Linked DNA regions of Homo sapiens. The protein of the gene in region 3 purifies or fractionates together with the protein of the main gene of each other region. This does not show direct contact. Each region holds a gene or a part of one and is shown on either strand. Other genes may lie near its edges.

Region 1 (2,360 bases), on a different chromosome or scaffold from region 3:
GGGGACAAGTTGAAAGTGGAGCGGGAGATCGATGGGGGCCTGGAGACCCTGCGCCTGAAGCTGCCAGCTGTGGTGACAGCTGACCTGAGGCTCAACGAGCCCCGCTACGCCACGCTGCCCAACATCATGGTGAGCCCCTGGCCAGCGGGCACTGAGGGCCTGGGGGTGGCAAGCACATTGCCAGCCCAGTGCCCCCCGGTGGTCGCACGTGGGGAGGGAAGGATCCAAAGGAGGTCTCGTGCACAGGAAGCCGTCACCTGGAGTTTGGCTGATAGAGAGAGTTTGCTGGGTCATCTCTGCCAATACTGAGAGTTCATGGGGGCTGCTTTGGCTAGCAGGGAGGGCTTGCTGGTATCTAGGCCAGTAGAAAGCCTTCGCTGGGCAGCAGAAGGTGTTCCCTTTGTCATTCCAGCCAGTGGAACAAGTTCACTGGGTCATCTAGGTTCATTAGGGAGGGTCCCCTTGGTAATTTTTGCCAATGTGAAGTTACCATGTAGATCATCTTAGTTAACTAGGAAGGGTGCATGGGGTCTCTTGGCTAACAGGTAGAGTTCACTAATCATCATGGCCAGTAGATGGGTTCGCTGGGTCATCTTGGCCAATATTAACAGTTTAGTGGGTCATCTCCGCCAATAGAGAATATTCATCTCAGCCAACAGGGAGGGTTCACTGGATCATCTCAACTAATGGGGAGGGTTCAATGAGTCATTTCAGCCATTACAGAGTGTTCACTACATCATCTCAGCCTATAGGGAGGGTTCAGCGCATCATCTCAGCCTATAGGGAGGGTTCAGCGCATCATCTCAACCTATAGGGAGGGTTCTGCGCATCATCTCAGTCTATAGGGAGGGTTCAGCACATCATCTCAGTCTATAGGGAGGGTTCAGCGCATCATCTCAACCTATAGGGAGGGTTCTGCGCATCATCTCAGCCTATAGGGAGGGTTCAGCGCATCATCTCAGTCTATAGGCAGGGTTCAGCGCATCATCTCAGCCTATAGGGAGGGTTCAGCGCATCATCTCAGCCTATAGGGAGGGTTCAGCGCATCATCTCAGCCTATAGGGAGGGTTCTGCGCATCATCTCAGTCTATAGGGAGGGTTCAGCGCATCATCTCAGCCTATAGGGAGGGTTCAGCGCATCATCTCAGCCTATAGGGAGGGTTCAGCGCATCATCTCAGCCTATAGGGAGGGTTCAGCGCATCATCTCAGCCTATAGGGAGGGTTCAGCGCATCATCTCAGCCTATAGGGAGGGTTCAGCGCATCATCTCAGTCTATAGGGAGGGTTCAGTGCATCATCTCAGCCTATTGGGAGCCTTCAGCATGCCATCTCAACCAAAAGTCCACTGAGTCATTACTACCAAAAGGATGGGTTTGCCACTCTGTTGCAGCCAGTGAAGGGCTTCCTGATTTGGTTACCTAAAGGAGGACTGCTGCAGTAGTTGGGCCTCCCAGGGCCTCCTAGCCAGCAGGAGTTGTCCACACCAGGTGTGGCCCTGTGAGAAGTTTCGCGTGTCCTGGCCAGTGGGTGGGTCCAGAGGGTTCAGCCCATGGGACTGGTCTGCAGGCCTGGCACCCATGGGAAGGAGGTGGCAGGAAGGGTGGCAGGAGTTCCACAGCCCTGTGAACAATGGCTTCCCATGTGCAGAAAGCCAAGAAGAAGAAGATCGAGGTGATCAAGCCTGGGGACCTGGGTGTGGACCTGACCTCCAAGCTCTCTGTGATCAGTGTGGAGGACCCGCCCCAGCGCACGGCCGGCGTCAAGGTGGAGACCACTGAGGACCTGGTGGCCAAGCTGAAGGAGATTGGGCGGATTTGAGCCCCTCCCAGAGATGGCAATAAAACTGACTCTCAACATCTATCTCTGTTAACTTATTTCCTAGAGACCCATTATTTGGTTCATTCAACATTTACTTGAGTCTTTTGTGTGCCAGGCCCTGTGGATCCAGTCCCTGCCCATGAGGAGCCTCTGTATTGATGCGGGGGACAATGAGGACAAAGGCAGCTGTAATTCGGGGTGAAGTATGCTAGACGTGGAGGCACACTGGGCCCTTGGGAACCCAACTGGGGGACCTGGCCTGGCCCAGCCGGTGGGGTCAGAGATTTCCCAGGGAGATGACTTCCAAGTTGAGTGTTGGAACACAAATATCAGTGAGGTGGGTGAGAAGAAGGGCTTTTATCCACGATGTTTGCAGGACACTCATTCTCTCTTGTGTCCCCAGTCTCAGCAGGGACACAGGAGAGAATGAGGCCAGAAGCTGTGGTTCTGGTGTGAGACAGACAAGCCACAGAGAATCAAAACTTAGCGTTGCAATGAACAGCCTGGGTCTACAGTCAGGTTAATTTTTTTTTAATTATGTT
Region 2 (3,500 bases), on a different chromosome or scaffold from region 3:
TTTCCACCACCATTTGTCCAAAGACAAACACTTTTTTTTGTACCAATCTTTATGTATTTATTCACACATTTGATAAAAATGTCACAGTTAGGAGTGAAATCATTACAATGACATGAGTAACTGTACAGACAGACCCCAAGTGCAGAATCAAATTGCCCTAAGTCAGAACATGGAGCAACCGCAACTCCTTCGCACTTGTGCATGTGTGTGCGCTCGCAGACGCACACACACACACACATATTCTCTCTCTCTCTTATGCACACATCCATCCACATCCCAACAATTGCAGGTGCTAAGTTTGGACATAACCCAGGGACTCTTCCCTGACTTCTGTCAGGTCCTGGAAAGAAGAAGTAATAAATGAAAAGCAGCTGGGACTGCTCGATGCATCTCTCCTCTTCCAACAATGACGCGGAGAAGGCAAGACATACACTGGGGCAGCTACTTCCTTGGCACAAAAATGAACAGGCAACAAGAAGGTCAAGGAAGTGTTTAAGTTAGTCTCAGGTTTAAACCACTTTTCAACACCACAAAACAGTAGCAAGCAGGAAAACAAAAACAAAAACAAAAACAAAAACTCTGGCCCTCAAGACTCCAGAAAAAAGGGAAGGAGGAGGATTTAAAACTTGATCCCTATTATTCTAACAAATTGCAGCATGACCATAAGCAAAACCAGCTCGGTCAAACTGACAGCATCAGATTGTGACCTTATCTGAACAGTGTAGTTCACTTTTATTTTGGCTCTGAAGAGAGGAAGAAAAACTTTTTAGAGGAACTTAATGGTAACATAAACCAAATCTCCACTGTATTAGTATTTGAGACAAGATTACATCTATGCATTCACACAGCTTGTCTGTAGATCTGAGAGCTCCAAGGGAGTGGCCCAGCCCCCATTCCTCTGACTTTAGCCTTCTGAAAAGAACAAGTCAAACCTGAAATATGAAAAATAATACCTGAATCAAAATGGTGTTTTCTATACAATCGGACTAGGGTAGAATCCTGCTCAATTCCTCAACTCCTATTTGACACAAAAGTTAAAAAATTTTTAAACTAAATTTAAATGTGATGTTTTGAGCATCAAAAAGCTACTATCTAAAAGGATTAGTCTCCCAGTGTTCTTGGTAAATGGGGAAGGTTAGGAAGGAGGCAATGATCCAATGAATATAGAAGAACTGGCCGATTCACAGGAAACTTGCTTTGGATAAGGTGAGTCAATGGGTGATATTGTGCAGGCAGGGAGGGAAATTTCTTTGTACAAATTCATGTCCCTGGCCAGGCATGGCCCAGGAGTTCAAGACCAGCCTGGGAAACAGAGTGAAACTCCATCTCTACTTAAAAAAAAAAAAAATTAATAATAACTTCATGTCTCTAGAGATAAAAGCAAGGTGCGGACAAGGCACTTAACATAGCCAAGTATCGTTCACACCCATTCACATCATGATTGTTACCAAGAGCACTCCCAGTAGCCCCTCATTTGAGAGACTCAACTGGCCAACTATACTTTCCAGGTGGACCTGGAGAACTGAAGGAAATCCAAAGCGCTGCACAATCGATGGTGGGATTTGGAATGTCAGCAGAGGAAACTACTCAGAGAAGCAAATGGAGGTCATCCCCTTCTGGCCTGAGGTGAGAGGTTTGTTCCAGATTAGCTCAGTGAGATACCGAATTTCAAAACAGTTGGCCTGAGAATATGACAACACTCCCACAAATGTAGCCTTCTTCTGTTTTGATAAGAGCAATAAGGGCTCTGAATGAAATGGGACATCAGTTATTGAATTATCTTGCACTGGAAGTTACAGCAGATGCCTTCTAATACATGTGGCATGTCCCCCTTCTACAGCAGAGTGATAACGGACTGAGACAGGGCTAGAAGCACCTTGTCCCTTCTTATCCCAAAGCCTGTCAAGCATACTCAATCCGAGCAGGGCCACAGCTGCCCTCGTTCTTTCGCTCAGAGGACTGGCTGGTGGCCTTGGCTTCACTACTCATTTCCAGAGGCTTAGCTGAGATGTAGTCCTTTACTTTAATCTCCATATTCTTGGCTTTCAGAGTGGCCATGTGCAGCTTCTCCAGGAAATCTGGCATGCCTGTCAGGAGACGAGAATCAGGTTAAGCTGACATACAAACCAACAGTAGGCTCAAAATGAGAAGACCCTATTTCTTTGATGGTAGGGAACTAGTTCTTCCTTATAAAGATCACAACCTGACTAGCCTGTGAATAAGAGCTGCCTCCCGGAATGTGTTCCCAAAGCATGGGTTGTGAAAACTCTGTCTCAGAAAAAAAAAAAAAAGAAGAACCAGAAGAGACGTTTTATTTCCCCATTAGGAAATAGAGAAAAACAAAATGCTCAACCCAGGTTCCAGGCCCTGTATACTTGCCCTTACTTACCACTGGAAACCATCCAACTAACACAGTAGCGAGGAAACACCGTTTGGGGATTGTCACTGTATGTTAGTAAGTAGTCAAAGCCATTCTGGAAAAGAAAAACAGCAAAAATGAAGATCCCTGAATCACCAACCACAACCTCCATATCCAGTACCATAGAATAACTATGATCTGATTCTGGAGCAGGGAGTGTCATTTCTTTTTTCACCCTGTGCAGAAAAGAGTTAACACTGAAGGCCTGAGAGACTACTATCTATAGAAAGGTCTCCTTGCAATGTTGACCCTTGGCCAACTTCGCTCCCAGTCAACAGTTAGCTGATATGGGTGGCTCCCTGTGCATAGACTATGCAAACAACGTGGTTTATGCTGAACACAGGCTTTGCTTTGCAGGGTTTGGAATTCTGGTATGTGCTAAGCAGACGGTACTAAGTGACCAGCTCCCAATAAAAATTTTGGGTGTTAGGCCAGGCATGGTGGCTCATGCCTACAATCCCAGCACTTTGGGAGGCCGAGGCAGGCGGATCACCTGAGGTCAAGAGTTCAAGACAAGCCTGGCCAACATGGTGAAACCCCATCTCTACCAAAAATACAAAAATTAACCGGCCATACTGGCACACACCTGTAGTCCCAGCTACTCGGGAGGCTGAGGCACAAGAATTGCTTGAACCCGGGAGGCAGAGGTTGCAGTGAGCCAAGATCTAGCCACTGCATTCCAGCCTGGGAAACAGAGCGAGACTCCGTCTCAAAAAATAAATAAATAAATAAATAAATTGGGTGTTGGCTGGGCGTGGTGGCTCATGCCTTATAATCCCAGCACTTTGGGAGCCCAAGGCAGGCAGATTACTTGAGGACCAGAGTTCGAGACCAGCCTGGCCAACATGGTGAAATCCCATCTCTACTGAAAGTTAAAAAATTAGCTGGGCGTGGTGGTACACGCCTGTAATCCCAGTTACTTGGGAGTCTGAGGCAGGAGAATCGTTTGAACCGGGAGGCAGAGGTTGCAGTGAGCACAGATTGAGCCACTGTACTCCAGCCTGGGTGACAGACCAAGACTTTTTTTTTTTTTTTTTTTTTTTTTTGAGACAGAGTTTCGTTCTTGTTGCCCAGGATGGAG
Region 3 (4,016 bases):
CAAAATAAATGTATTCTATCATAAATTATGAAATATAGCTCTTATTAGGTACTTAAACACAAAATAGATCTTCTGTCCCATATTCTGCCACATCCTTTTCTATGTTACATAGTTACAGAAGTAAAATAACGAGACTTGAGTGGAAAGAAAGTGAAAGGAGGGAAGCAAAGGGAGTAAAAAGCAACTAGCTGAAAATCTCTCAATACAAAATGATGCTAAGTAAGGTCTGTTTGACAAATTTAATGCAACATTTCATATGCTGTTCTATTAAAAACAAACGACATTATTCCCCCTAAATTATCCCTTTGAAGCCAACCAAGTTAATATTTTTGGAATTGACATGTAAGATAGGATAACAAAATAAGTTAAGCATTTAACAACATCTCTAAACAAAGTATTTCCAAATTTTATACATCTTCTAGTAGAAGAGTTAGCTCTTTGTATTTGTTGGTGTATACTATTTTATAAAATAAAACCCTATTTAATTAGTCTATGTAAATTACTTGGAAGTCTGCAAATAGTAATTTTCATAGATGTTACTTAGTGCCAGCACCCTCCCCAAAATTAAATGTTACATAATTTGTTCATTTTGTGGGATTCCTAATTTGAAAAGAAACAACTAAAAAATAATACCAGAATAAAATAGCTACTCCTCTAGGGGATCACAGTAAATACAGCATTATTTTTTGCACTCTCTTAACTCTGTGAACTTCATTAAAAAGTTTAAATTTTCCCTAATATCTTTGAAACACGTGGTAAATGCGGTTTTAAGTATTGAGATTACTGGGTTCTGAAGAGCAACAATGAATGCCTAATTCCATTGAGTACAAGAATGAGCTTTTGCTTTATCATTGCAATAAATAAAAATGAAGTCTACTTTTATTAGTCTTGTGTTTCTCTCAACCCTAAGAAAATAAAAATATTTACAACTTGCAATGGTTACATTACAAAAAGTCATTTCATAAAAGTCTAAACTAAAATCCAAATGACTTCCTATGCGTTATTAAAAATAATCTTTACAGTCTATAATCATGCAAGCTTACATATGGAATACCAAAATGATAAATGTTTTTAGATACCATAAATATGTGCACTTACTACCATGGTGACTAAAACAGTCTAAGAATAAAGGAAATACAAGCTGTCTTTGCAAACGTATTTATTTATTCATATACTACACCTGTATCAGAAATTAAAGTGGTTTTGGTTTCAAAAAGTTTGAATTCTGGTTTCAAAATTATTAAATATAAATTTATATTAATAAATATAAAATTTAGTAATAAACAAATTCGGTGCTTGCTTGATATAAACGTGCTGAATAGCAATGCGTAACCAAGTGATTACCATTTAAATGACTTTGGAAACAAGACCTCTGCTCCCTATTTGGATTAGGCTGATAAATTTTATGACCTTACTGTGAGCGTATTAGTATCTGTACATAACTTTGGTTAAAGACATGTTTTACAATCATTACCTCTATATACAGTTAAACATTAATTTCATTTACAGTCAAAAGTATTTGGGGCCCTCTTAACAACATGTGAACTGTGTTTCCTTTGTCAGATGTAGAATTTTACAATTATTCGGCCAACCAATTACTAATCAAATGATTTCTTTACAAATGAAGTTTTGTACCACATTACTAAAGTAGCAGACTCTAACTAGTCCAGCTAACCCAGAAGCACTGTAACTAACCACACCGCACACAGCACTAGCTTATGTCTTCAACGCTCAGACCTGTATTCAATCAATTTCCTTCCACAGGAGCCTGCCAACTTCAACAACAGAATAAACGATATAATATCAACACGCAATGGTACGTACTCGCCACAAAGTCTGAATCACAGCACATATATTAGGCCAATATTTTCGACAGTCTGACTCAGAGCCCAGGAACCATGAAGATTGTGTCTGTCCTTGGTGCTGAAATGCACTGTTTTTCTGCGCCCTCACTGAAAAACTGTCATCCTAATCCCAATCCAAGAGGCTAAAAAGACTTGTTAATTTGGGGAGTCTGAGGATGGGAGGTTTAAAAAAGAAAATGATAAGTTTCTGGAAGAGAATGCCAACTAGTGTGTGTGTGTTGGGGGAAGGGGGTTGCTAGAAACATCCCGAGGGCATTTCCCCTTCAGTGCCCAGAGACCCAGGAAATCCGGACTGCGGCAAAGATCGGAAACGCCTCGTCGGGGCAGGAGCCGCGAGCGGGAACGTCGCCCTCGTCCGGGCCAGGCGGGCGAAGGCGGCGAAGGGCGCCACGGTTGTGGACGGCTACTTTCCGCGCCAAGGCGCGAGCCCCGGGGTCCTTTTGTTTCTGGGGTGAGGGGAGGGCGGTGGGCGGAGGGTAACCCACATCTGCATTTATTTGCACAGAGGGGACAACAAAAGACCCTGCCGCCCTGGCGAGCGGCGTCGGCGGAGCCAGAGTGGCCCCGGCGCCTCGGCGCGAACTCTGTCCCTTTCCTCGCGGTCCCGGCCGCTCTTACCGTCCCGGTCGCACAGCTGAATGGCCTCCAGGCTGAGGTTTTTGATCACCTCCTCACAGGGGCTGGTGGGGCTGTTGAGGGCATGATCCAGGCGCGGCACCTCCATTTTTCCAACCCACTCTGAAGCCCGCCTGCTTCGTATCCAGGCTCTCTCTGCCGGCCGGGTGGGCAAGAAGAGCGGGAAAGGGAGGGGGAGTGGCAGAGGGAGGGAAGGAGGCCTGGGACGCGGTGATGCGGCGCCGAGGCTGAGGCGCGGGGCTGGAGAGCCGCCGCGAAGGCGACGGCTGTGGCAGGAGCTCCGCGGAGTGTGCGGCTCTGAGAGACCGAGCAGGACCCGGCGCGAGGATGGGAGGCGCGCGCTCCCGGCGGGGAGGGGACGCTGCTCTCGGGGAACGTGATGTATAGGGCTTCGACGCGCGCACGCGCGCGGGAGAACGCGCCCACCTGCTGGCGCGCGGTGGTCCCTCCCCCGCCCTTCTGCGCGCACGCGCCCCCACCTGCCCTCCAGCCACTGCCAAGGCAACCTCGCGCGTGAGGCGTCGGGCGACCGAGCGCGCGGGAAGGGCGAGCGCTATACGCCGCGCGGCTGCCTCGCCCTCTCTCCTGGTGATAGCCATTTGGCGTCTTCTGTCTGCTCTCGGTGCCTGGCGAAGCCCGAGTTGGCCCTGAGGCGTCTGCACGGGGAGGCGAGGGCGAGCATGTTTGTTGTTTACCAAGAATTGGAAAAATAAGGGCCCGGACTCTTCGGACTCTCTGTACGGTATTGGGGTGTGGGAGCCACCTCCTCCCCTGAAGGTCCCAGGATACTCGCTGCCCGCACCCTGCGGGCTCGGCCGGACATTCCTCGGAAACAGCTGCGTCTGTGTGAGAAATGAGCGGATTACCTGAGGCGTGGAGGGGTTTAGAGACAGCATTTTGCCAGTCCACGACACTGAAGCGGGGCAAACGTGGGAACTCCTTACTGCCAGAAAGGTGAGGGAATGAGGAGATGCAGCAAGCCTGCTGAAAAGGCGGCAGACATGCTGCGGGGCCAGCAGCCACGGGACCAGCAGCCACGCAGTCTGCCTTCGCAGCGTAGCTTCATTCATTCATGCGCGTAGCAAATAAGTATTCAATGCTCACCCTATGCCATTGTTCTGGGCGTCAATGAAGGGAGTATAAACAGCACCTGCTCCCATGGATTTGGAAGGAATCTTTGCTACAATAGCTAATGAAGATTGACTTGTGCTTCCTCAAGCTACTCTATAACTTGTATGCCCATTGATTTTAATTGCATTTAAGATTCTGCAGTGCACTTAGTGGATGTGCAAACGTTTTAAACATAAAATAGAGGTCACAGCCTATTGACCTCTGTTCCCGTTTGCTTCTTTGGAAAAGTTTTTAGTTTTGTTGCTATCTTGGGATCAAAAATAGTGTCCCCTCTTTTCTTAATGTGCTTATAAATTAATATAAGTTCCCTTTTATTGATTTTCCATTTCAAACATAAATGTTAACCAACAAGTAACAGTTTACACATAGATGTCTGTATGCTGC
Region 4 (4,098 bases), on a different chromosome or scaffold from region 3:
AAACAGATCTGGAGCCCAGACAGGGGAAGAAGGTGGGCGACCAAGCTGAGAACCACCACCTTTGCTTAAGACCAAGGTATGAGCAGCCTGACTCAGTGGGAAGCGATCCGGTCGCCATTTTCAGTCCTTCTGTGAGTACTGGAAGGAAGGCACTCCTGAGCCTTGGCAGCATTACTTCCGGAACAGCCCGAGCACAGCTGCTCAGAAGGACGTTCATTTGCACACAAGACTTGGTTTAAGCTAAGCCAGCAAAAAAAGGCTGCACCGTGGGAGGTAGACAAGAAGCAAGTTCCAATCCCACCCCCACACCTGCTCTCGCCTTCGGACGGCTGCCCCTTGGTGTGGTCAATCACGTGCATCTGAGGGACGTCAGGAGCAAAGATCTGGACTTCAGCCCCTCCACGGCTCAGGTGCACCAGGATCCTGCACGGGGGAAAACCAGAGACAACTCTTCAAAACGTGCCCCACTCAGATTTGTGTTAACACATTTTTAAAAACAGGATTTTAGCTAAGTACCAGGAGCAAATTCCTAATGTATATTAATATCTTACTTGCTCTGCAAAAAGTTACAGTTGGTTCCATACCAAGCCAAACGTCCCCCACACCCCCATTCCAATTCACTGTCGGTTGGTGGGTTACGACTATGACAAACCCTCAGAAGTGGGCTATGGAGATCAGCTGGTCCCAACAGCTCCCTTTGCAAACTGGGGTATGGGGGCCGGGTGACTCCACTGAGGGCACAGCCTGGAGGCGTGCGGGTCCCCGGCTGCTGAGTGCTCTACCTACACCCAGGGCCTGGCTGCCCTCCTCCAGTTGCTTGCTGCAAGCACCAAGAGTGAGAAGCAGCAGTGTGCTCAGAGTGCCACGTGCACAGACGGTGTGACGGGGCTTTCGGTCACTACTTAGTTCAATTTCTAGTCTCCCTCAACTTTCCCATCACAGATGGTGGGAGAGACACAAGAGACCCCAGGACAACACCACAGGCCAGGCAGCTCCATCTCCCCAAGGGCAAGGGCAACAGAAGCTCCTCCTGGGGACAACAGCTGACATTATGGGGGCTCACGCTGGCATCCGCAACTCCCAGTGCCAACAGGAGATAGGTGGCTAAGCCCACCCACACACTAAGCCCTCACTGCCCCTTACGTGGAGGAGGAAACCGAGGCATGAAGTGCAGTGACTTGCCAGAGGGAGAGGTCAGCACCTGGCCCTGGCACTTGGGTTCCGCTACCCATAAGAAATCCACCCAGACACCCCAGACACAAGACCCTGCCGTTCTGCCTGGGAGAGCTCAAGCTATTCTGGGGCTATTTTCTATCCCACCAAGGCCAAATCATGAAACACATCCTGGCCCTTTCCCCCAGCTCACTCTGCCTAGTGCCAACTCCAACCAGCCAAGGTGGGCCACCCACAAAGCCACCAGCCTCAGGCCACTCTCCATGGCCTGACACCCCTTTCGCCACCACCCAGCTCTCCCCTCTCCAGTTCACCCTGAACCACATGGGAACTACAGGTACCTGGCACGCGTGGTGGCCTCCTGCCCTACTGGTTCGGCCTGCAGTCATTTCCAGTAGCACAGGAAATCAGGCCACCAAGCACTCAGCAACAGCTGACCAGTTACGTAAACAGTAACCTGTCTAGGACCCAGAAATACCACGCAACTGTTAAAATGATGTTGAGAACTGAATGAATGGGAATTACTTCCCATGCGTCAGAAACATTTGCAAAACACGGGTGAGTGTGATCTCAGTGTTTTCAAAATGTGTGTGTCCTGAAAAACACTCAAGTGAAATGCTAAGTCATTTCTAGGCTCTAGGTGACAGTATAAGCGACACTTAAAAACTGTTCTTTCTTAGCGTCTCCCTGGGTTTTGCAAGTCGTTTTTGCTTTTTTTTAGCCAAGAATAGGGTATTTAAAATACAAGCTCTCTCGGCCGGGTGCAGTGGCTCATGCCTGTAATCCCAGCACTTTGGGAGGCCAAAGCGGGAGGATCACTTGAGGTCAGGAGTTTGAGACCAGCCTGGCCAACATGGTGAAACTCCGTATCTACCAAAAATACACAAATTAGTTGGGTGTGGTGGTGCATGCTTGTAGTCCCAGCTACTCGGAAGGCTGAGGCAGGAGAATCGCTTGAACCCAGGAGGCGGAGGCCGCAGTGAGCCAAGATCGCGCCATTGCACTCCAGACTGGGCGCTGTCTCAAAAGACAAAAAGTAAAAATAAAATAAAATACATGCTTTCTCTAAGCTGTTCAAAAAAGAGTAAACTTCACTGGTGGAGAGGCCTTCTCGAGGCCCCCGGGGTGGAGGACCAGCTGCCCCTGAGGACTTACGCCGAGGCCTCGTGGATCTCGGTCCCATCGTAGACTCCGCATCCAGACAGCACCTGCGAGAGGAGCGGGAGCTGACCCGGGGGAAAGGGGCCGACCTGGGCGGCGGGAGTTGACTGGGGGGAAAGGGGCCGACCTGGGCCGCGGGCGCTGACCCGGGAAAATGGGGCCGACCTGGGCCGCAGGAGCTGACTTGGGGTGAAGGAGCCGACGTGGGGCGGCGGGAGCGGACCTAGGAAGAGGGGCCGACCTTGGGCAGAGAACAGCGAAGGCTGATCTCTGGAGGCGGGAGCTGACCTCACCCCCTCCGTCCACTCACCAGCGCGACCCTGGCCGCGGGGCGCGGCACGGAGAGGTGAAGGGCTGCGCGCTGGGAAGGCGTCCGACCGCCGGGGGACAGGGACGTGAATGCAGATGCCGCAGCGAGCCTCGAGGCCACCAGGGCCCTCACAGCCGCCATTGCGGTGAGGACAGCGGGGTCGGAAGGTCACGCAGGGACAGAGCGTGCGCACCCACCCCTCTACAAACGCGTTGCTCGTCGGGACTGCGCCTGCGCAGCCTTCGGGGCGGAGCCAAGACCCGCCCCCGTCTCAGCCCTATCCAGTGAGTGCGCCGGTGGGCGGGGGCCGCGCCTGCGCAGAGCCTCCGAATAGAGTTCCGGGAACCCTGTCTTCCTTCCGGTGGTGGCTGAGGGCTCGTGCTCGAGGCTGAGGGATGCTGGTGACTCCCGGGGTCCCCAGCCCCGCCCCCATCGGACGCCTCCACAGGCGGCGCACCCTTTCCGCCATCCGCAGAGCAAGGCTGCCTCGGGGCGGCTCAGTCCGGCGCTTCTTACCTTACCTCCGTCTCATCCTTAACTCACCACGAGCGTCCAGGGTCCACATCCTCCTAAATGGCCACTCGTCTTAATCTCGGCGTCAGGACCCACGCGGGGTCAGGACTACCCCTCCGCTTCCATGACTGTCTCCTCGCGGCTCCGGCTCCCACGGAGCGACCCCTCCGGGTTTTACTGACCCCGGGATGTTGTATCCTGGAAACTGCAGTTCCACCCAGGGGCTTGATCTGGGTTAGTCTGGGGGCAAGTGAGCCGCCGATTCTGTTTGGGTTTTTTTTTTTTTTTTTTTGAGACGGAGTTTCCCTCTTGTTGCCCGGGCTGGAGTGCAATGGCGCGAAGTCGGCTCAACGCAACCTCCGCCTCCCAGGTTCAAGCGACTCTTCTGCCTCAGCCTCCCAAGTAGCTGGGACTACAGGCATGCGCCACCACGCCAGGCTAATTTTGTATTTTTAGTAGAGACGGGGTTTCTCCATGTTGGTCTGGCTGGTCTTGAACTCCCGAGCTCAGGTGATCTGCCCGCCTCGGACTCCCAAAGTGCTGGGATTACAGGCGTGAGCCACCATTCCCGGGCACTGTTTGGGTTTGTTTTTTTGTTTTTGTTTTTTACGTTCACAGCATGGACGGTCAGTGTGAAGATCCCAGCTGCTCGGGTCCTAGCTGGAATTCTTCCATTAAAAAAATCTGTTTGTTATGCATGGGTTAGTTCACAGAGGAATAGCTGGATAAGTGCTGGCTTTTTCCCCGATTTACCCATTTTCAACCTAATAATGCAGGTTTTTGAAATAATGTGAATGGTTACTGCTGGCGGATGTTCACAGGGACACACCGGATTCTACAGACACATCTGATGATCTAGCCACGGCTGTCACTTTCCCCACTGCCGCGTTGTCCATCACTAGGACTTTACTGCCAATCCTTGCAAGATAGTGGGGAACTAG
Region 5 (3,500 bases), on a different chromosome or scaffold from region 3:
AGCAGCTCTGCGCCCAGCTCAGCTGCCGCCTCCTCGTTCAGCGGCTTGATGACCGTGCCCCGGAAGCCCATGATGCGCATCTTGGTCCGCATCTCCACCCAGTGATACACTGCGGGGGAAGAGAGGGGTCAGGCTGCGCTCTGGGAGCCCCCTGCAAGCCCCACCCCTCTCACCCAGGGAATGCAGTCACCTAGCCTGGGTAACCCAGGGGTCTTTTAAAAGACCAGATGATTCTAGCGAGCAGCCAGGAATAAGAAACACTGCCCCAGAAGGGAGGTCCTCGGACTTGAGGGGCCGCGCCCCAAGAGGGACACCAGGAGCTTCCACAGCGCCAAGTTCATGGACGGTGTAAAGGTCCAGTTGCCAGATGCTTAGTTCCCTGTGTTCCTCCCTTAAGCCACTGCCATCCTGGCTGTCCTGCCCTGGCACTGTCGCCCCACCCACTTCCCAGGAGAAAGACCAACCTCCTTTCTTGCCTTATTTTCCCAAAATGCAAAGTTGGGGCTACAGATGGGGGAGAGGGGGGCTCCTGGCTCCAAAGGGCAGCTTAAGGTGGCAGTCGATGCTAAGTGCCTCTGAACACTTAGATACACTTGTAATAATCAATCATTTTTGCAAGTCTGATGGCTCCAATCCTAGAATTTCATCAGCCCTGAAGGTGCAGCTAAGAGCTGCGAGCTCTTCACAGTGAGGTTTTGGGCACATACCTTGGTGGGAGCTCAAGAGGTGAGTGGTGCTGCTGGAACAAAAACTCCTTCCTTGCCTAGCTGCTTCTTTATGAAGGAAGGTTCTCAGCACTTGAGTCTTTAAAACCAATGCAGAATTGATGCTGCATCCTGACTCACTCCTGCAACAATTAATATTCATCCAAGGGCACATGAAACCACAGAGGGAACCCTTGTGTGGTGCCTTTGCAGACTCATTTGCAACATCTCCTTTTACTTTTAAGGTTTAGTAATTATTCATGAAAATGTATAAAAGATGAACTTTTTGTTGTTGTTGTTTTAGAGACGGAGTCTCACTCTGTTGCCAGGCTGGAGTGCAGTGGCACAGTCTTGGCTCACTGCAACCTCCTCCTCCCAGGTTCAAGCAATTCCCCTGCCTCAGTCTCCTGAGTAGCTGGGACTACAGGCACGCGCCACCATGCCCGTCTAATTTTTCGTATTTTTAGTAGAGAAGGGGTTTCACCACGTTGGCCAGGCTGGTCTCGATCATCTGACCTCGTGATCCACCTGCGTTGGCCTCTCAAACTGCTGGGATTACAGCCATGAGCCACCATGTCCATCCAAAAGATGAACATTTTAAAGTAACTGCGCACTAATAATTTCAAAATTAACTCAATCCAGAAGAAAATAACTTAGCATTTAGAACCTTATGGTCACAGGAAATTAACATGTAAATTTCTGTATGTATTTTGGTTGCCGACATATAAATCACTAGATGGAATTCTGTGGGTATGTGGACTGTAAATACAAAAGTACATGAACAAAAAGAAACCATGTGAAATTTCTGACTGAAAAAGAAGAGCTTGTTTTTATTTGTATTATTTTCGAGACGGGGTCTTGCTTTGTCGCCCCGGCTGGAGTGTAGTGGCGCAATCATGGCTCACTGCAGCCTCGACCTTCCAGGCTCAAATGATCCTCCCACCTCAGTCCCTTGAGTAACTGGGACTACAGGTATGCCTGGCTAATATTTTTTTTTTTTTTGAGATGGAGTCACACTCTGTCGCCCAGGCTGGAGTGCAGTGGCGCGATCTCGGCTCACTGCAAGCTCCGCCACCCGGGTTCACACCATTGTCCTGCCTCAGCCTCCTGAGTAGCTGGGACTACAGGCGCCCGCTACCACGCCCAGCTAATTTTTTTATATTTTTAGTAGAGATGGGGTTTCACCGTGTTAGCCAGGATGGTCTCGATCTCCTGACCTCGTGATCCACCCACCTCGGCCTCCCAAAGTGTTGGGATTACAGGCGTGAGCCACCGTGCCTAGTCATTTTTGTATTTTTTTTAAAATAGAGATGGGGTTTATCAGTATGTTGCCTAGGCTGGTCTTGAACTCCTGGGCTCAAGTGATCTGGCTGCCTCGGCCTCCCAAAGTGCTGGGATTGCAATCGTGAGCCACTATGCCTGGCCTATATATATATATCTTTAAACCAGACATTGGTAGGCATCAAATCATTATTGTATGCGAACTGCAATAAATATGAAGGGAAGGATGCACCAGCTGTTTGAACATGTCAGTATCATAACACACCAGAACCAGAAATTCCATCCTTCACAACTACTTAAGGTTAATGAAGAAAAGTTTTACTTGTCAACTTGAAAATGCACTAGAGGGCACACAATTTATTTTTTCTTTTTCTGAGACAGGATCTCGTTCTGTTGCCCAGGCTGGAGTGCTGTGGAACAATCTCAGCTCACTGCAACCTCTGCCTCCCAGGCTCGAGTCATCTTCCCACCTCAGCCTCCTGAGTAGCTAGGACAACAGGTGCATGCCACCATGCCTGGCTAATTTTATTTTTTTTGGGTAGAGATGGGGTCTTGCCATATTCCATCTTATTTATTTATTTATTTAACAGATGGGCTCTCACTCTGTGGTCCAGGATGGAAGGCAGCGGCTCCATCACAGTTCACTGCAACCTCGAACACCTAGACTCAAGCAATTCTCCTGCCTCAGCCTCTGGAGCCGCTAGAACTATAGATGCCCCACCATGCCTGGCTGTTTTTAAATTGTTTTTTGGTAGAGACTGGGTCTTGCTATGTTGCCAAAGCAGGTCTTGAACTCCTGGGCTCAAGCAATCATCCTGCCTCAGCCTCCCAAAGTACTGGGACGACAGGAGACAGCCACTGAGCCCAGCCACTACACATTTTTCATCTTCAAAGGGGTGGGGTGGCAGGAAGGCTTGGGGAGCTCTGCTGGAGCTGGAGGGAAGACCTGAGGTGCAAGCTTAGGGCCCGAGAAGTCACTGTCACTGTCACTGTCAGCTGCTGCAGTTACTGTTACAGCTGTGACTTAGGCCCTGGGCTTGTGGGTTCCTGGGGTCCAGGCTGTGGAGACCCCTCCCACACTGAGGTCTTAGGGTCAGGCTGATCTGGGGTCCCCCCGGGGCTCCGCCACCTGCTGCCTGAGCAATGACAGCCTGCCCCAAGGCCCCTCTGTAACACAGGAAGGACAGCATCATCCTGACAATGACACTCGCCAGACCTGGTGGTGGCCCAGAGCTGGGCCCGTAACTGTCACTGCCTCCTTCATGTCAGGGACACCTAGCACAGTGGCCAGAGAGTGGTGAGGGGTGAGGGTTCCAGATCCTCTAGCCTTCCTGGGTGAGGTTCCCAGCGTGGAAATGCAAGTGTCTCAGTGCAGACCAAGCATGGGGATCTGGGCCAGCAGGTGGGTCTAGGTGTGCCAATGGGAGTGGGCACATACCCAGGCCACAGGAAATCAAATCAAGAGGGTGTGTGTGTGTGTGCACGCGTGTGTGCACGCAGGCATGGGCTTTCAGG
Region 6 (2,390 bases), on a different chromosome or scaffold from region 3:
TAGAAAAGAGTTTTACTTTAACTTTGTGAAATTGCACCTGTCATTTCTGATTCTGAAATTAATGAAATTATCAATAGCTTGGAATCAGGCGATAATCCAACTGAATGTTAACTGTTGGTATTTTCTAAGATAATCCAACTGAATGTTAACTGTTGGTGTTTCTGGAATGTTAACTGTTGGTATTTTCTAATGTTAACTGTTGGTATTATCTTGGTTCTAAGGCCGAACCAAGGATGCCAGGCATCAGTTTCAAAGTGAAAACCGCAATCAAATTAAATTAGCTGTTTAGGTTTTTAGATGGTTCAAATGGTAGGTCAGTGATTCTTAGCCCTGGCTGAATATTGCAGACAGTCCTCAACTTACAATGGTTCAATTAAGGATTTTTCAGCTTGACAATGGTGCAAAACCATACACGTTGAATATGCTCCTCAGCTTACATTGGATTTATCTGGACCTGACCCCATCGTAAGTCAAGGAGCATGTGTACAGTCACCTGGGGAGATTTGAAAAAATTCTTCCCCAGACCCATTGAATTGCAATCTCCAGGAGTAGAGCCCAAGGATCAATACTTTTGAAAGGCTGGGCGCAGTGGCTCATGCCTGTAATCCCAGCACTTTGGGAGGCAGAGGCAGGCGGATCATTTGAGGTCAGGAGTTCACGACCAGCTTGGCCAACATGGTGAGACCCCATCTCTATTAAAAATACAAAAATTAGCCAGGCATGGTGGTGCATGCCTGTAATCCCAGCTACTCAGGAGGCTGAGGCAGGAGAATTGCTTGAACCTGGGAGGCAGAGGTTGCAGTGAGCCGAGATCTTGCCACTGCACTCCAGCCTGGGTGACAGAGCGAGACTCCGTCTCAATTTAAAAAAACAAACAACAAGGCCAGGCGCAGTGGCTCACGCTTGTAATCCCAGCACTTTGGGAGGCCGAGGTGGGTGGATCATGAGGTCAGGAGTTCAAGACCAGCCTGGCCAACATAGTGAAACCCCGTCTTTACTAAAAATACAAAAATTAGCCAGGTGTGGTGGCACACACCTGTAGTCCCAGTTACTTGGGAGGCTGAGGTGGGAGAACCGCTTGAACCCGGGAGGCAGAGGTTACAGTGAGCTGAGACCATGCCGTTGCACTCCAGCCTGGGTGACAGAGTGAGACTCCGTCTCAACAGCAACAACAACAAAAAACAAAAAAAAAAAAACAAAAGCAAGCAAACAAAAAACTGTTGAAAGCTTCCTAGGTGCAATTCTCATGTGAAGCTCAAGTTGAGAACTGCGAGCTACACCAGAGCTTCCCAGTCATATCGTTGAAAGGTTACTGCTGTGTCCCAGTGTTCATTCCTCTCAACTTGTTACTGTTCTCCCTGTGTGCTGTGATGTTAAAAATAAAAACAACAACAACAACAAAGCGTTGGAAAGCACCGAGAGATGACAAAACATCAAAGTTGGCTACAGTTTTCATTTTTGGTCTCCCTTTCTTGACTTGGTGTATACTCAGTCCTCATTAGTATTGCAGCTATCATTTGTCCTGTCATGTGTCTCTGCAGCATACCATAAAGTCTCCAAAGGATGGCACAGTAAAGAAAGTGTTCTACAGAGAAGGTGCTCAGGCCAACAGACACACTCCTTTAGTCGAGTTTGAGGAGGAAGAATCAGACAAAAGGGAATCGGAATAAACTCCAGCAAGGAAATGGCCAGTTAAGTAGTGTCTTCTCTCTCCACCAAAAAGAGGAAGTGCCTCCAGCTTTTCTGGGGGTCTCATAAAGAGCAGTTTTACTAAATGATTGTATGCTTATGCTGAACACCTTTCATATTGGAGAATCATGCATTTGGGTCACTAATTATCTCAAAATATTTCATACTAATAAAGTTGAATTATTTTTTATTGGAAGCCAATGTTTGTTTCTGCCTCAAATTTTTTACAAGGTAGTCTCTTTTAGGAAGGGGGGAAGAGAAAAGGACATTTAATTAAATGAATTACTTTCCAGTTGCTGTTATGATGAAAATGAGCAGTAATATGTTTCAGAGACAGGTGCCCTGGAGTTCAACAACTAAGGTTTTGTCTGGCCAAAAAGCAACTTGCTAGGTAGTTTAAAAGACATGGATATTAGTCGGGCGCGGTGGCTCACGCCTGTAATCCCAGCACTTTGGGAGGCCAAGGCGGGCAGATCACTTGAGTTCAGGAGTTCGAGACCAGTCTGGCCAATATAGTGAAACCCGTCTCCACAAAAAATAAGCTGGGTGTAGTGGTGAACATCTGTAGTCCCAGCAACTTGGGAGGCTGAGGCAGGAGAATCGCTTGAACCTGGGAGGCAGAGGTTGCAGTAAGTCGAGACCGCACCACTGCACTCTAGCCTGGGTGACAGAGCGAGACTCTATCTCAAAACAAATACATA
Region 7 (3,500 bases), on a different chromosome or scaffold from region 3:
CTCCTGTGCTCTACCCATCCACCCCCCAACCCCCCTACCTATCCCTGGCAACCACTGGTTACTGCCTTTGTAGTTTTGCCTTTTCCAGAATGTCATATAGTATGTATGAATCATATGGTATATAGCCTTTCCAGACTGGCTTCTTTCGCTTAGCAAAATGCATTTAAGCATCCTCCATGTCTTTCTGTGACTTGGTAACCCATTTCTTTTTATCATTGACTAATATTCTGTTGTATGGATGTGGAGGTACCACAGTTTATTTCTCCATTCACATACTACAGGATATCTTGGTTGCTTCCAAGTTTTAGCAGTGAATAAAGCTGCTATCAACATTTGTGTGCAGGTTTTTGTGTGGACATTAGTTTTCTTCTCCTTTGAGTAAATATCAAGAGCGATTGATGGATCACATGGTAAAAGTATGTTTCGTGTTATAAAAAACTACCAAACCTTTTTCCATAGTGGTGGCATAATTTTTCATTTCTACCAGTAATAAATAAGAGTTCCTGTTGCTCCACAGCCTCATCAGCATTTGTTGTCAGTGCTCTTAATTTAACTCTTCTAATACGCATATAGTAGTATCTCATTGTTATATTTTAATTTGCAATCTGTAATGACTTACAGTGTTGAGCATCTTTTTAAATGCTTCTCTGCCATCTGTATATCTTCTTTTGTGAATGTCGGTTAATTTACTTGGCCCATTTTAAAATTGGGTTGTTTGTTTTACTGTTGAGTTTTAATAGTTCTTTGTATATTTTGGATAACAGTGCTTTACCAGATATGTCTTCTCTCCCCAACCATGGCTTGTCTTTTCATTCTCTTAACAGTGTCTTTTGCAGAGCAGAAGTTTTAAATTTTAATAAGGTCTAATGTACCATTTTTTTTCCTCCATGAATTGTGCTGTTGTTGTTGTATCTAAAAAGTCAAATCCAAGTTTTGGCAGTTACAAATAAAGATGCTGTAAACATCAGTGTACAGATATTTGTGTGATTTTTGTGCAATGCAGATTTTCTCCATTGTCTTGCCTTTGTCTCTTTGTCAAAGTTCAGTTGACTGTATTGATGTGAGTTTACTTCTGGGCTCTCTATTCTGTTCAATTGATCTATCTGACTATTCTTTTGCCAATACCGTACTGTCTTGATTACTGTAGCTTTATAGTAAAGTCTTGGGGACAGGCAGTATCGGTCCTCTAACTTCGTTCTCCTTCAATATTGTGTTGACTATCCCAGGTCTTTTGTCTCTCCAAATAAACTTGAGAATCAGTTTGTTGATATCCACAAATAACTGCTGGGGTTTTGATTGGGATTGCATTGAATCTATAGATAAAGTCGGAAAGAACTGACATCTGGACAGTATAGAGTTTCCCTACCCATGAACATGTACTATCTCTTCATTTATTTATACATATTTTTATGTTTTCATCAGTTATGGTTATTCTCACATAGATTTTGACCTATTTTAGGTTTATGTATAAATAATTCACTTTTTGGTGCTAATGTAAATGGTTTTGTGTTTTTAATCTCAAATTTCAATTGTTTATTGCTAGTATATAAGAAAGTAATCAATTTTTGTATATTAACCATGACTTTACATCCAGCAACTTTGGCAGAATAACTTATTATTTCCAGTTTTCTGTTGCTTTGTTGGCATTTTCCACATAGCCAATTATGTTTTTTGAGAACAAGAACAGTTTATTTCTTCCTTCCCAATCTGTAGACTTTTCATTTTCTTTTCTTTTCTAATTACATTAGCCAGCACTTCCAGTATAATGTTGACTAGGAAGGGTGAAAGGGAACATCCTTGCCTTATTTCTGATCTTAGGGGAAAAGCTTCTAGTTTCTCTCCATTAAGTATGATGTTAGCTGTAGGTTTTTCATAGATCTTCTTTATCAAGTTAAGTTCCCATTTATTACTAGCTTGCTGAAAGCTCTTATCATAAATGAATGTTAGATTCTTGTCAAATGCATTTTCTGGATCTATTGATGTGATCATATAATTCTTCCTTAGCCTATTCATGCGATGGATTACATTAATTGATTTTCAAATGTTTAACCTAGAATAAATCCCATGTGGTGGTTATGTATAATTCTTTTTAAACATTGTTGGATTCAATTGCTGATTTTTTTGAGGATTTTAACATCTATGTTTATGAGAAATATTGATCTGTTAGTTTCCTTTCTTGTAATGTTTCTGGTTTTGGTACCAGGGTAATTCTGACCCAAGAAAATTAGAGAATTTCCTCTACTTCTATTTTTTGAAAGAGATCATAGAGAATTGGCATAATTTCTTTCTTAAATGTTTAGTCATATTCATTAACCCTAGTGCTTTCTATTTTGGAAGGCTACTGGCTCCAGTTCTTTAATCAGTATAGGCCTATTCAGATTATCTATTTCTCTTTGTGTGAGTTTTGGAACGTTGTACTTTCAAGGGATTGTTTCATTTCATTTAACTTACCAAATTTGTTGATATAGAGTTGTTCATACTAGTATTTTATTATCCTTTTAATGACCGTAGGATCAGTATTGATGGCCCTTCTTTCATTTTTGATATTAGTAATTTGAGTCTTCTCTCTTTTTCTTCTTAGTTAACCTGGCTAGAGGTGTCTCAGTTTTATTCATCTTTTCAAGGAACCAGCTTTAGGTTTTGTTGATTTTCTCTATTGACAGCATGTTTTCAATTTCACAAGTTCTGCTGTAATTTTTATTATTTCCTTTCTTCTGTTTATTTTGGATTTAATTTGCTCTTCTTTTTCTAGTTTCCTAATTTGGAAACTTGCTTTTAGCTCTTTCTTCTTTAATAATATATGCATTCAGTGCTCTAAATTTCCCTCTAAACACTACTTTAGCAGCATCCCATAAATTTTGATGTTATATTTTCATTTTAATTTAGTTTGAAATATTTTAAATTTTTTCTTGAGAGTTATTCTTTGATTTGTTTACATGTTGTTTAGAAGTGTGTCATTTAGTTTCCATTTTTTTAATGTTTTTCAGATATCTTTCTGTTATTGATTTCTAGTGATTCTGTTGTGATCTCAGTAATCTCCATCATAGAAGTCATTGATATTTGTTGTTGTATGTTTTATGGCACAGAATGTGGTCTGTCTTGATGAATATTCCATGTGAACTTGAGAAGAATGTGTATTCTGTTGTTGTTGGGTGAAGTATTCTCTAAATGCCAATTAGATACACTTAATTGATGGTGCTGTTCAACTATGTCCTTACTGATTTCCAGCCTGCTGGATCTATCAGTTAGTGGGTACTGGCCAGGCACGGTGGCTTACGCCTGTAATACCAGCACTTTGGGAGGCCGAGGTGGGCAGATCACCTGAGGTCAGGAGTGCGAGACCAGCCTGACCAACATGGAGGCTCTACTAAAAATACAAAATTAGCCGGACGTGGTGGTGCATGCCTGTAATCCTAGCTACTCGGGCGGCTGAGGCAGGGGAATTGCTTGAACCCGGGAGGCGGAGGTTGCAGTGAGCCGAGATCGTGCCACTGCACTCC

The links.
Region 1: the proteins of PHYHIPL (region 3) and ETFB purify together in Homo sapiens (co-immunoprecipitation; one large-scale study listed by IntAct). This does not show direct contact.
Region 2: the proteins of PHYHIPL (region 3) and STARD7 purify together in Homo sapiens (affinity purification with mass spectrometry; one large-scale study listed by BioGRID and IntAct). This does not show direct contact.
Region 4: the proteins of PHYHIPL (region 3) and putative glutamine amidotransferase-like class 1 domain-containing protein 3B, mitochondrial purify together in Homo sapiens (affinity purification with mass spectrometry, with the first as the bait; one large-scale study listed by BioGRID). This does not show direct contact.
Region 5: the proteins of PHYHIPL (region 3) and OPA3 purify together in Homo sapiens (affinity purification with mass spectrometry; one large-scale study listed by BioGRID and IntAct). This does not show direct contact.
Region 6: the proteins of PHYHIPL (region 3) and MCCC1 purify together in Homo sapiens (co-immunoprecipitation; one large-scale study listed by IntAct). This does not show direct contact.
Region 7: the proteins of PHYHIPL (region 3) and ALDH1L1 purify together in Homo sapiens (co-immunoprecipitation; one large-scale study listed by IntAct). This does not show direct contact.

What each region holds. Positions count from the first base shown.
Region 1 is NC_000019.10:51,344,669-51,347,028, reverse strand, and holds the end of ETFB (electron transfer flavoprotein subunit beta), read left to right. Parts: coding exon 1-129; intron 130-1,647; coding exon 1,648-1,818; 3' UTR 1,819-1,860; downstream 1,861-2,360. UniProt on the Homo sapiens protein: Heterodimeric electron transfer flavoprotein that accepts electrons from several mitochondrial dehydrogenases, including acyl-CoA dehydrogenases, glutaryl-CoA and sarcosine dehydrogenase.
Region 2 is NC_000002.12:96,184,828-96,188,327, forward strand, and holds the end of STARD7 (stAR-related lipid transfer protein 7, mitochondrial isoform 1 precursor), read right to left. Parts: intron 2,475-3,500; coding exon 2,390-2,474; intron 2,088-2,389; coding exon 1,903-2,087; 3' UTR 32-1,902; downstream 1-31. UniProt on the Homo sapiens protein: May play a protective role in mucosal tissues by preventing exaggerated allergic responses.
Region 3 is NC_000010.11:59,175,427-59,179,442, reverse strand, and holds the start of PHYHIPL (phytanoyl-CoA hydroxylase-interacting protein-like), read right to left. Parts: upstream 2,801-4,016; 5' UTR 2,590-2,800; coding exon 2,484-2,589; intron 2,280-2,483; exon of another isoform or gene 1,853-2,279; coding exon of another isoform or gene 1,825-1,852; intron 1-1,824. UniProt on the Homo sapiens protein: May play a role in the development of the central system.
Region 4 is NC_000021.9:5,125,570-5,129,667, forward strand, and holds the start of putative glutamine amidotransferase-like class 1 domain-containing protein 3B, mitochondrial, read right to left. Parts: upstream 2,801-4,098; 5' UTR 2,786-2,800; coding exon 2,645-2,785; intron 2,382-2,644; coding exon 2,329-2,381; intron 424-2,328; coding exon 310-423; intron 1-309.
Region 5 is NC_000019.10:45,553,803-45,557,302, forward strand, and holds part of OPA3 (optic atrophy 3 protein), read right to left. Parts: intron 848-3,500; exon of another isoform or gene 708-847; intron 110-707; coding exon 1-109. UniProt on the Homo sapiens protein: May play some role in mitochondrial processes.
Region 6 is NC_000003.12:183,014,718-183,017,107, reverse strand, and holds the end of MCCC1 (methylcrotonoyl-CoA carboxylase subunit alpha, mitochondrial isoform 1 precursor), read left to right. Parts: intron 1-1,541; coding exon 1,542-1,670; 3' UTR 1,671-1,890; downstream 1,891-2,390.
Region 7 is NC_000003.12:126,174,087-126,177,586, reverse strand, and holds part of ALDH1L1 (cytosolic 10-formyltetrahydrofolate dehydrogenase), read left to right. Parts: intron 1-3,500. UniProt on the Homo sapiens protein: Cytosolic 10-formyltetrahydrofolate dehydrogenase that catalyzes the NADP(+)-dependent conversion of 10-formyltetrahydrofolate to tetrahydrofolate and carbon dioxide.